3 linked regions of the Homo sapiens genome follow. The protein of the gene in region 3 interacts with the protein of the main gene of each other region in a biochemical or structural test. Each region holds a gene or a part of one and is shown on either strand. Other genes may lie near its edges. The genes, in order: ESR2, ABL1 and STAT5A.

Region 1 (3,648 bases), on a different chromosome or scaffold from region 3:
CTTTAACATTGTAGGGCAGAGTTTTCCCAACACATCGATTGAATGTTCAAACATGGCCTCAGTACAATGTTCTGGTACAACAGGAAAAAATTGTCTCTAAAGAGTTTAATTGTTGGGCCTGGCATGGAATTTCACCTGGCCAACCAAAGAACCAGTACCCAGACATCCTGATTCTAAGAATTATTCATTTATTTGCATGTCAATTTTCTTTAGTCACCATAACCTAAAATAGTTGGTCCATATCCTGGGTGGTGAACAGGCTTTGTTTTCTGTCCAGAGACCTCTCTCTCTCTCCCAGCACACACCCCTGTATTTGGCCCTCTCAGGTCACATCTGAATTCAGCCAGAAAGCTTTTTGTACACATGGGATCGTGCATGGTGTTCTAATGTACTGGCTGGGAAACATACTATGGCTTTTGAATTAAAAGAAAAAAGTAGTATTTAAAATTCCCAATTTTGACAATGATTCATGGACAAGAAAAAGTTTGGCCCTAGAAATGGCAGAAAAACACTCCAAAAAGACTACACTTTTTTTTTTTTTTTTTTGAGATGGAGTCTTGCTCTGTTGCCCAGGCTGGAGTGCAGTGGTGCAATCTTGGCTCACTGCAAGCTCCACCTCCCGGGTTCAGCCATTCTCCTGCCTCAGCCTCTCAAGTAGCTGGGACTACAGGTGCCCGCCACCATGCCCAGCTAATTTTTTCTATTTTTTAGTAGAGACGGGGTTTCACCATGTTAGCCAGGATGGTCTTGATCTCTTGACCTCGTGACCCGCCCGCCTTGGGCTCCCAAAGTGCTGGGATTACAGGCATGAGCCACCGTGCCAGCCAAGACTAGACTGGTTTTTATCAAAGCACCTGTAAATCTAGTTAATAAGAAATCAGTCACCCGGGCGCGGGTGGCTCATGCCTGTAATCCCAGCACTTTGAGAGGCCAAGGTGGGCAGATCACCTGAAATCAGGAGTTCGGGACCAGCCTGGCCAACATGGAGAAACCCAGTCTCTACTAAAAATACAAAATTAGCCGGGTGTGGCAGCGCTTGCCTGTAAACCCAGCTACTCAGAAGGCTGAGGCAGGAGAATCGCTTGAACCCAGGAGGTGGAGGTTGCGGTGAGCCGAGATCACGCCACTGCACTCCAACCTAGGTGACAAGAGCAAAACTCTGTCTCAAAAAAAAAAAAAAAAAAAAGGTCAGCCACCATCAAGCCTGTTCTTATGTATATTCTATCAATGGATAGAGCAGAACATTCATTCTAGCCCCAGCTCTGCCTGAAAGCCAGGCAATCTTAGACAAATCCACAAACTCCCTGAGCTGCCACATCTTCTTCAGTAGAATCAGGTACCTATTTGGTGCTGTACCTTTTCACGGTGCTCTGAGGGTGAAATGAGATGATGTCTGTGAAAGGATTCTGAGGCCGGGCGCAGTGGCTCACGCCTGTAACCCCAGCACTTTGGGAGGCCAAGGTGGGCAGATCACCTGAGGTCGGGAGTTTGAGACCAGCCTAACCAACATGGAGAAACCCCGTCTCTACTAAAAATACAAAATTAGCCGGGCATGGTGGCACATGCCTGTAATCCCAGCTACTCGGGAGGATGAGGCAGGACAATCGCTTGAACCTGGGAGGTGGAGGTTGCAGTGAGCTGAGATTGTGCCATTACACTCCAGCCTGGGCAACAAGAGCAAAACTTCATTTCAAAAAAAATAAAGAAAAAGAAAAAGAAAAAAAAAAAGAAAGCATTCTGTAAGGTATTATTACACATCCAAGAAGATGAAGCCAGTCTATTGGTATATCACTGGATACACATTTAGTGTTGGTTGGAATTTCCAGACAAGTTACAATGTCTTTATGGCCACCCTGAAGATTTTTGCCTCCTAATTTTACTTTTTGACTTCTGTCCACAGAAATCCATCACCCCTAGTCCAGATAGCTGGGCTGCTGGTAGCCTGCCAACACTGTGTGTGTGGACAAAATGCCACATATTCCTGATGCCATATTCTCAAGCTTGCAGACTAGGAGGATAAGTCTAGGAGGATAAGAATAGAGGATAAGTCCTCATCCCTATTCTTCTTCCACCTGCCCATCACACTTTCCCAAGCATTCAGTTCAAATGCTCCACATTTGTGTGTCCTGCAGAAGTAAAAAATTCACGCTCACAAAGCAGCAACTAGAAGGAATTTCATGGAAAAGATTTAAAAAGATTTCTTAAGCAACAAGCATCCTTGATGTGCATAAGTAGCTGTTTGACAATTATTAGCTTTTTTGGGGGGTGGGGGTTATACTCTAGCTCTGTAACTCAGGCTAGAGTGTAGTGGCAAGATCATGGCCTACTGCAGCCTTGATCTCCTGGGCTCAAGGGATCCTCCAAACTCAGCCCCCCAAGTAGCTGGGACTAAAGGCATGCACCATCATGCCCAGCTGATTTTTAAATTTTTGTAGAGATAGGGTCTCACTGTGTTGCCCAGATTGATCTTGAACTCCTTGCCTCAAGCAATCCTCCCACCTCGGCCTCCCAAAGTGCTGTGATCACAGGCATGAACCACCACACCTGGCCAATTATTATCTTTAAATGTATTCTTATTTATTTATTTATTTATTTATTTAGAGATAGAGTTTTGCTTTGTTGCCCAGGCTGGAATGCAGTGGCATGATCGCGGCTCACTGTAAACTCGGCCTCCCAGGTTCAAGCAATTCTCATGCCTCAGCCTCCTGAGTAGCTGGGACTACAGGCTTGAGCCACCATGGCCAGCTAATTTTTTGTATTCTTAACAGAGACAAGGTTTCATTATTTGGCCAGGCTGGTCTTGAACTCCTGCCCTCAAGTGATCCAGCCACCTAGGCCTCCCAAAGTGCTGAGATTACAGGCGTGAGCCACCACACCCAGCCTTTTTAAATATATTCTTTCAAAACAAAATATTAAGGCCCTCAATTAATTTAATATTAGGAAGATAAAACACTCCAAAATCACCAGAGAACTCATCATTAATAACTGATTTGCATGTAATTCTTAAGAACATGTACATAAGGAAACCCTGTTTCCTTCTAAAATGAGGAAAAGCTAATTCTCCTAGTAACCAATTGGCGCTTATTTAGTTGGATAGGAAAGAGTTTCAAGGGTTTGAATAGGGTAGGAGGACCAAGCCTCGAAGGCAGGGGTGGGAGAGAGTTCATCAGTCTTCTCAAGTGTCTTCTCTCTCAACAGCAAGTTTCTGCTCTTCCCTAACACCAACAACAGCCACAGACCATGCTCTGTAGGAACTGGACCAAATTCAAATATTCATTTGGGACAGGGTCAGAGAGAATTCCGAGTGAAGGGATTCAAGATGACACAGCCAATCCAGAAGTTAGGCTGAATGCACTCAACTCCCCTTCCAGGCCTGGGTTTGACAGTAGAACACACAACAATTTACTAACAAAATGCTGCAGTCTGGCTTTGAGGAAACATATACAAGTCCAGCAATCTATCTTTCTAGGTCACCCTAACTCTCCTGCCCTCTCTCAAGTACACCCACACAAAGATTCTCCACTAAAAGCCCTTCATTTTCAAGACCTGTCATAATTCCAGCTAGGAAGGCCAACTATCCAGTTTGCTAGCTCCTCATAAACTTGCCACTCTGCATATCCTAGTTACTACCACTGTAACTGGGTATGC
Region 2 (3,648 bases), on a different chromosome or scaffold from region 3:
ATGCCACTGCACTCCAGCCTGGGCGACAGAGTGAGACTGTCTCAAAAAAAAAAAAAAAAAAAAAAAGAAACCAACTTGTGGCAGGGCATGGTGGCTCACGCCTGTAATCCCAGCACTTTGGGAGGCCAAGGCAGGTGGACTGCCTGAGCTCAGAAGTTCAAGGCCAGCCTGGGCAACATGGTGAAACCCCATCTTTACTAAAAATACAAAAAAATTTAGCCAGGCGTGGTGGCAGGCACCTGTAATCCCAGCTACTTGGGAGGCTGAGGCAGAAGAATTGCTTGAATCTGGTAGGCGGAGGTTGCAGTGAGCCGAGATCATGCTACTGAACTCCAGCCTGTACTTTGTACCCCAGAAAAAGCAAGACTCTGGCTCCAAAAAAAAAAAAGAAAAAGTAATTTGTTATTTTAAAAACTGGTAAATAAAAACAAAGAAGCAAGAATTGACCCTGCTCTTCCTACATGAACTGTACCACTGAGTAACCACACAGATGAGGAACTGTTTCTCCTCATACAAGTTTCCACTAGTAACTTAACAGGAATGACAGAATTAGAGAATTCCTACCTGGCAATACCTAGCAAACTATTGGATCTAGGCACTGTATATCAGTAACTGCCAAAAATTACTCAAAAAAAAACCCCCACAAAAAAACGATAGCAAATCAAGCATTTTGGGGCCAGGCGTGGTGGCTCACGCCTGTAATCCCAGCACTTTGGGAGGCCGAGGTGGGTGGATCACGAAGTCAGGAGTTGGAGACCATCCTGGCCAACATGGTAAAACCCCGTCTCTACTAAAAATACAAAAATTAGCCGGGGGTGGTGGCATGCGCCTATAATCCCAGCTACTCAGGAGGCTGAGGCAGGAGAATCGCTTGAAACCAGAAGGCAGAGGTTGCAGTGAGCCAAGATCGTGCCACTGCACTCCAGCCTGGGCAACAAGAGCGAAACTCCGTCGGAAGGAGAAGGAGAAGAGAGGAGGGGAGGGAGAGGGGAGGAAAGGAAGGAAGGAAATAAATGAAGCATTTTGTATCTACTGATGGAAGGGCACACCATCTCCCCTGATCCACTCTTACTAAAAGAGAAACAGTCAAACCTGAATGTGATGAGGCCGTTCCAGATCCAGCCACCCATTACTAGGAATACTGAAGTCAGAGGAACATATTAAATCACACCATGGGAGACAATGAGCAAAACCCAGAACGTACGAAACTCTAAGGATGGTTTCTTCAATAAACAGCAAGGGAAATAAAGACATGGAGAGGGGGCTTATAGAGGAGACTTAACAGATCAGCAGATACACTGTGCACCATATTTGGACCTCAGGCCAAATACACAGTTAAAAAAAAAAAAAAAAGGGTGGCTGTGCACAGTGGCTCACACCTGTAATCCCAGCACTTTGGGAGGCCAAGGCAGGCAGATCACCTGAGGTCAGGAGTTCTAGACCAGCCTGGCCAACATGGTGAAACCCCATCTCTACTAAAAATACCAAAAATTAGCTGGGTGTGGTGGCGGGTGCCTATAATCCCAGCTACTCAAGATGCTGAGACAGGAGAATCGCTTGAACCCGGGAGGGAGAGGCTGCAATGAGCCAAGATTGCACCACTGCACTCCAGCCTGGGTGACAGAGTGAGACTCCGTCTCAAAAAAACAAAAAGAAAGGAAGAAAAGAAAGGGAAGAGCAAGAAAGAGGCAGAAAAAAACCCTCCTGTAGTCAGGAAGGACCACTTCAGTGCAGCAGCAGCCCTTACCCCAGACGTCGGACTTGATGGAGAACTTGTTGTAGGCCAGGCTCTCGGGTGCAGTCCATTTGATGGGGAACTTGGCTCCAGCATGGGCTGTGTAGGTGTCCCCTGTCATCAACCTGCTCAGGCCAAAATCAGCTACCTTCACCAAGTGGTTCTCCCCTACCAGGCAGTTTCGGGCAGCAAGATCTCTAAGAAAGGAAAATGTTCACCCATGAGAGCTCCTGGCCAACCTTCCACTTCACAAATCCACCACTGCTGAGCAAAGGTGCAATGCTGACAATGGAAAGATTGAGTCCAATGCCCTGGAAGTTTGTATTAATGCCCACGGCAATTAACACAGTGCCAGCCTCTCAGCAAACACACCCTGAGATCCCAACATGGGGAGAGGCTGGTGCTGGGAGCGGGCTCCCTGGCCTCATGACCTGGAGCAAGTTAATTACCCTGGGACTCAGTTACCTCATCCGTAAAATGAAGACGATAATAATGGCACCTACCTCTTAGGGTTGCTGTGAGTGTAATTAATTAATATGCTAAGTGCTTTGATTGAAGTGTCGAGAATAGTAAGTGCAGTTATTGCTACTCTATGCCAGGCACGGAGACAAACACTGAGCCCAGTCCTTGATTGCAAGAAACTTCTATCAGAGTGCATCTCCACTTGTCCTATTCAGACTTGATGGGACAAAATAAAACAAAGCCCATGGCATTCTTTACCCAAACTGTGTTTCCTACTTCCCTCTTTCTTCCTGAGGTGTACCCAAATGTATCCTAAAAAACTCTCTCCTGTATAATCTGCTTCCTCTCACTTCCTGATTCTCCCAGGGAGGTAGGAGTCTAATCTTTGGTTCATGAACATTAACCATGAAATCACAAGGCAAACGGGAAGAGCGGAATGAGAGGGGGCAGCAGCTTGAGGTGATGGCTGCGTGAGATAGCCTGATCGTCAGCAACAAGAGTGAAATTAAATACAGAAGAGTTGTGCCTAAGAGGATTTTGATAAAGCATTTTAAGTTCGCTTGAATGAAGAAGGAACGGACCCGGCCGTGCCAGGCAAACCAGAAGTCAAGCAATCTCAATTTGCAGCATCAGAGGATTCACTTTCCTGAAAGCCAGGAGTATCTGGATCAGGCTCTCATGGAGCATAGAAAATCTGTCTTACAAGGAGCCGCCAGCATTTCACACATGCTACCCTTATTCCTTGCTATGAAATCTCATGTAGAGGTTTCATACTTGAGCTAATTGGGTAGGAAAGGTCACAGTGGTGGTGTGGAGAACATCTCGTATAAAAGACGCCAGCAAAGCCCATCAGGCTCTGTCCTGCACAGGCCGTCGCTTTGCTGGGAAGCCATTTCCACCAGCAAAGAATTTGAAGACCAAGATAATTGTGGCACATTTGAAGGTCAAAACACTTCAGGGTTTAAAACAGCAAAGACACTTAATTTAGACCTCCACATACACAATTCTGACAATTGTGGAAACATCCCTGAATCAGAGGACAGCAAGTTAAGTGGAGAATGAAAAGATAATAAAGAGAAAGCAGGAAAAAAAGACACACACACTAAAAAACAAAAGCCATGTACTGGTTGTTCCCATGAGTTTGCGTAAAAGCAATGCCAGCGGCTCCCAGGAAGAGGCCATTACTGCTGGGCGCTGGCCCCGGAGGAACAATGAGTACTCTCTTTCAGAGGGGACTGTGATTATTAGGAAGGACGCCTTTTATGAACTTCATTTAATATTCCACTTAGCCCAAAATGGTTCAAAAATGAAATATTCCTTACTCCGGGGATTAGCTGCTCCACTGGTCCAGAGTCTAGGCCTGGCTGAATTTAGCCCTGGATGCATGCCCAAAGCTGGCTTTGCCAGGAGCCTAGTGTTTGCCTTTGTTCCAAGGTCCAATGTGTTGCCAG
Region 3 (3,648 bases):
CCTCAGCTTCCCGAGTAGCTGGGACTACAAGTGCGTGCACCACCATGCCCAGCTAATTTTAAAACTTTTTGTAGCGATGAGGGTCTCCCTATATTGTCCAACTCAAACTTTTGGGCTCAAGTGATCCTCCGACCGTGGCCTCCCAAAGTGCTGGGATTACAGGGGTAAGCCACGGCATCTAGCCTAGCACCAAGCTTGTTGCAGGGACAGGGAAGGCATCTGAGTAGGAGGAAGGCAGTGTACCATCTGTCCCAGATTTAATGATGGTTTGACATGATTGTTTGAATTTACAATGGTGTGAAGCAATACACTTTCAGGAGAAAGTGGTGTGATAGTCTCTCACAATGCTGGGCAGTGGCAGTGAGCCTCAGCTCTCCGGCAGCCACACCATCCCCAGGGTAAAGAACGGATACTCGGCTGGGTGTGGTGGCTCACGCCTATCAACTCAGCACTTTGGGAGGCTGAGGTGGGAAGACTGCATGAGTCCAGGAGTTCGAGACCAGCCTGGGCAACACGGTGAACTAGGGGACAAGACATAGCTGGATGCAAGGACAAAGCGGGGGGTGCAGGTCCCCCACACCTAAGCTTGGGCAGGGGAAGGGAGAGGCACAATTACTTGCGGGTGTTCTCATTTTTAAGCAGAGACTTGGCCTGCTGCTCACTGATGATGGTGGCCTTCACCTGGGGGGGATTCATGTGCACGTTCAGCTTCCCGCCCACCAGCAGGCGTACGGTGGCTGCAAACTTGGTCTGGGTCTTCAGGACCTGAGGAGGCTGCTTCTCAATGATGAATGTGCTGCATGGGACACAGGGACAGACACACGATGAGGGGTTGGCGCAGGGGAAAGGGCTCTCAGTCCCTCTGTGGTGGGGGTGGGGCTGCCTCCCATGGGGCTCAGGAGGTGATGAGCTCGGGCACAACCTCTGTTCCCGGGGAAGCTGTGAGAGTCCAGGGAGAGGATGGAGAGGGGAGTGAGATAACACAGCAGCTGGCATGGGCTGCGGCCCAGGGTATCTCTTGCAGTGTCCACAGGAGAAACTGGGCAAGGGCGGCACCTAGCAGCCACAGCAACTGGAGATGGAGTTGGGAGGGATGAGAGGCAGGAAGTGGATCTGCTGGTCTGGAAGGCACCTGCAGCTCCCCCCACGCAGGCAGGAGCTGCCCCAAGCTCCTGGGCATGGCAAACAGGCAGCAGTCACCTGGTCACCAGGGCTGAGATAATGTCCGTGATGGTGGCGTTGACCTCGGCCAGCATCTCCTCCACTGGGCCGGGGATGGGCAGCTGCTGGCAGAGGTGCTCAGCCCTGCGGATCTGCTGCCGGTTCTGCCAGATGATCTCGGCCAACTTCTCACACCTGCACGAGAGCCCCAAGGCCAACAGGAGGACAATGGCTTCTCCTCACAGACGCCAGGCCCCAAGACACAGCTCCCGTTCCCCCAGGAAGGCTCTGTGCTTTCGCCACACTTCCCACCCATGGGAAGAGCAGAGCTCCCTGCCTCCCAGAATTAGAGACGTACACAGGAGGGGCGACCCTGACTAGGCCCAAACAGCCCAAGCATCACCCCACACACCCGAGCCCCATCCCACCCCCAGGACAGCAGCCCCCTTCCTGGGGGAGGTGCACAGGATGGGGACCAAAGTCTGATTGAGGAACCAGGCTCCCTGGAGAAACAAGAGCTGTCCCAGGATGGAGGGGGCCTGCTGCAGGAGCCAGCACAGGACGCAGAAGCAGCCGGGGTCCCCACCAGCCCCTCCTGCCCTGCCCGCTGGCCGCCCCACACCATTACCAGGACTGTAGCACGTCCAGGCTGCCCTCGGGGGGCCCGCCGTTCCCGGCCAGCTGCTGCCGCCGCTTCCACTGGATCAGCTCGTCATCCAGGATGATGGTCTGCTGCTTCCGCAGCAGCTGCAGGGTCTTCTGGTGCTTCTCGGCCAGCTCCTGAGGGAAGGGAGGAGAGCAGCCCCTTCTGGGCTCCCAGAGAACACCGCAGGGCCTCGCTGGGAAATGGCAGGGCAGGGCCCAGGCCGTTCCCTCTCCCCAAGCTGCTCTGCCTCGCAAGGCCCCCAGGAAAAAAGGCCTCCTGCCCTCCCAGGTTCTGCTCTCATGCTGGTCCCAGCCCTCCCTCGGGTCCCCAGAGACTGACTTCATGGCACCCACGCCCAGGAGAGGCCCAGGACCCCACTCACCACGCGGTACTGCTGCAGTGTCTGTGCCTCACGCTGCAACCAGGCCTCCAGAGACACCTGCTTCTGCTGGAGGGCCGTCTCCCGGCTCAGACGCTCCTGGGGGCTCAGCTGGGCCAGCTGGGCAAACTGAGCTAGAGGAGAGAAGAGGAAACCATGACCATCACCTCCTAGTGTCCAACAGGAGGCCTAGAGAAGCCCACTCACCTGTTCTGGAGCGAGACCCTCCCAGGCTCAGACACTGCATCAAGAGCAAGTCGGGGTTCCTGACAGCCAGGGGGGCCAAGATGAATGGCGCCTCAGGAGGCGCCTCTGGGCCCTGCTCACCAGCCTCCTGACTCTGAGCCGTCCCCTCTGGGGGCACACGGGTGCTGGGGCAGCTGGGGAGGAGGCCTGCCTGCCTCCTGCCCGCCTGCCTCACAGGGCTGCCAGCCCTCTTCTCGCGTCCCAGCATGGGTCCAGGCTGTCTGGGGTGTAAGTGTGCCCATGCCCTTGACTGCAGGTGAACCTGGGCAAATCGCTTTCCTTTCCTGTGCCTCAGCTTCCCCACGTGTAAAACGGGAGATTCTCAGCACCTGCCTCAGTGGGGTGCTTGAAGATTAAATACATGAGGACATGGAAGATGCCAGAAAGCTGCCTGACATGGGTGAGCTCTGTGTGAGGTTCGTGCTTCTTGGTTAACGGGGAACAGGACAGAGAGAAGAGGTGACAGAGACAAGCAGCTGCTCGGCCCCATCCCTCCCGCAGCAAGGCCTCTTCAGGGAACCCCAGCCCCGGCGGCTCTGTCTCGTCCCTGAGCACAGCAGTCCCTCCTCAGGGGAGGATGAGATTCTTGAGGGGCTGGAAGGGGCCCAGCATGTTTGTCCAGGTGGGCTCACTGTGAGCCCAGCCGACCAACCAGGGGAGACAGACAGATAGACAGACCGCAGAGGGAGAGCGTGTCCAGGGCCACTGGGGATGCAGAGCCACCAAGATTCTCTCAGGAAAGGGAGGCCGAAGGGAGGCGGCTTCCCTCCACACCATCTGTGAGGAGTCTCATTGATGGCGGGACAGGGAATAAGTCAGGCCTCACTAGCTTTTAAAAAGTATCCATCATGGGGCTGGGCGCAGTGGCTCACGCCTGTAATCCCAGCACTTTGGGAGACTGAGGCGGGCAGATCACGAGGTCAGGTGATCGAGACCATCCTGGCTAGAGACCATCCTGGCTAACACAGTGAAACCCCATCTCTACTAAAAACACAAAAAATTAGCCGGGCATGGTGGCGGGTGCCTGTAGTTCCAGCTACTAGGGAGGCTGAGGCAGGAGAATGGCGTGAACCCAGAAGGTGGAGCTTGCAGTGAGCCGAGATTGGGCCACTGCACTCCAGCCTGGGCGACAGAGCTAGACTCTGTCTAAAAAAAAAAAAAAAAAAGTATCCATCATGTGCCAGGCTCGGTGGCTTACGCCTGTAATCCCAGCACT

Evidence for each region.
Region 1: the proteins of STAT5A (region 3) and ESR2 form a complex in vitro, tested with the Homo sapiens proteins (one study listed by BioGRID).
Region 2: of the proteins of STAT5A (region 3) and ABL1, one has a biochemical effect on the other in vitro, tested with the Homo sapiens proteins (one study listed by IntAct).

What each region holds. Positions count from the first base shown.
Region 1 is NC_000014.9:64,287,821-64,291,468, forward strand, and holds part of ESR2 (estrogen receptor beta), read right to left. Parts: intron 1-3,648.
Region 2 is NC_000009.12:130,873,152-130,876,799, reverse strand, and holds part of ABL1 (tyrosine-protein kinase ABL1), read right to left. Parts: intron 1,933-3,648; coding exon 1,748-1,932; intron 1-1,747. UniProt on the Homo sapiens protein: Non-receptor tyrosine-protein kinase that plays a role in many key processes linked to cell growth and survival such as cytoskeleton remodeling in response to extracellular stimuli, cell motility and adhesion, receptor endocytosis, autophagy, DNA damage response and apoptosis.
Region 3 is NC_000017.11:42,298,423-42,302,070, reverse strand, and holds part of STAT5A (signal transducer and activator of transcription 5A), read right to left. Parts: intron 2,321-3,648; coding exon 2,190-2,320; intron 1,942-2,189; coding exon 1,790-1,941; intron 1,357-1,789; coding exon 1,201-1,356; intron 797-1,200; coding exon 617-796; intron 1-616. UniProt on the Homo sapiens protein: Carries out a dual function: signal transduction and activation of transcription. Mediates cellular responses to the cytokine KITLG/SCF and other growth factors. Mediates cellular responses to ERBB4.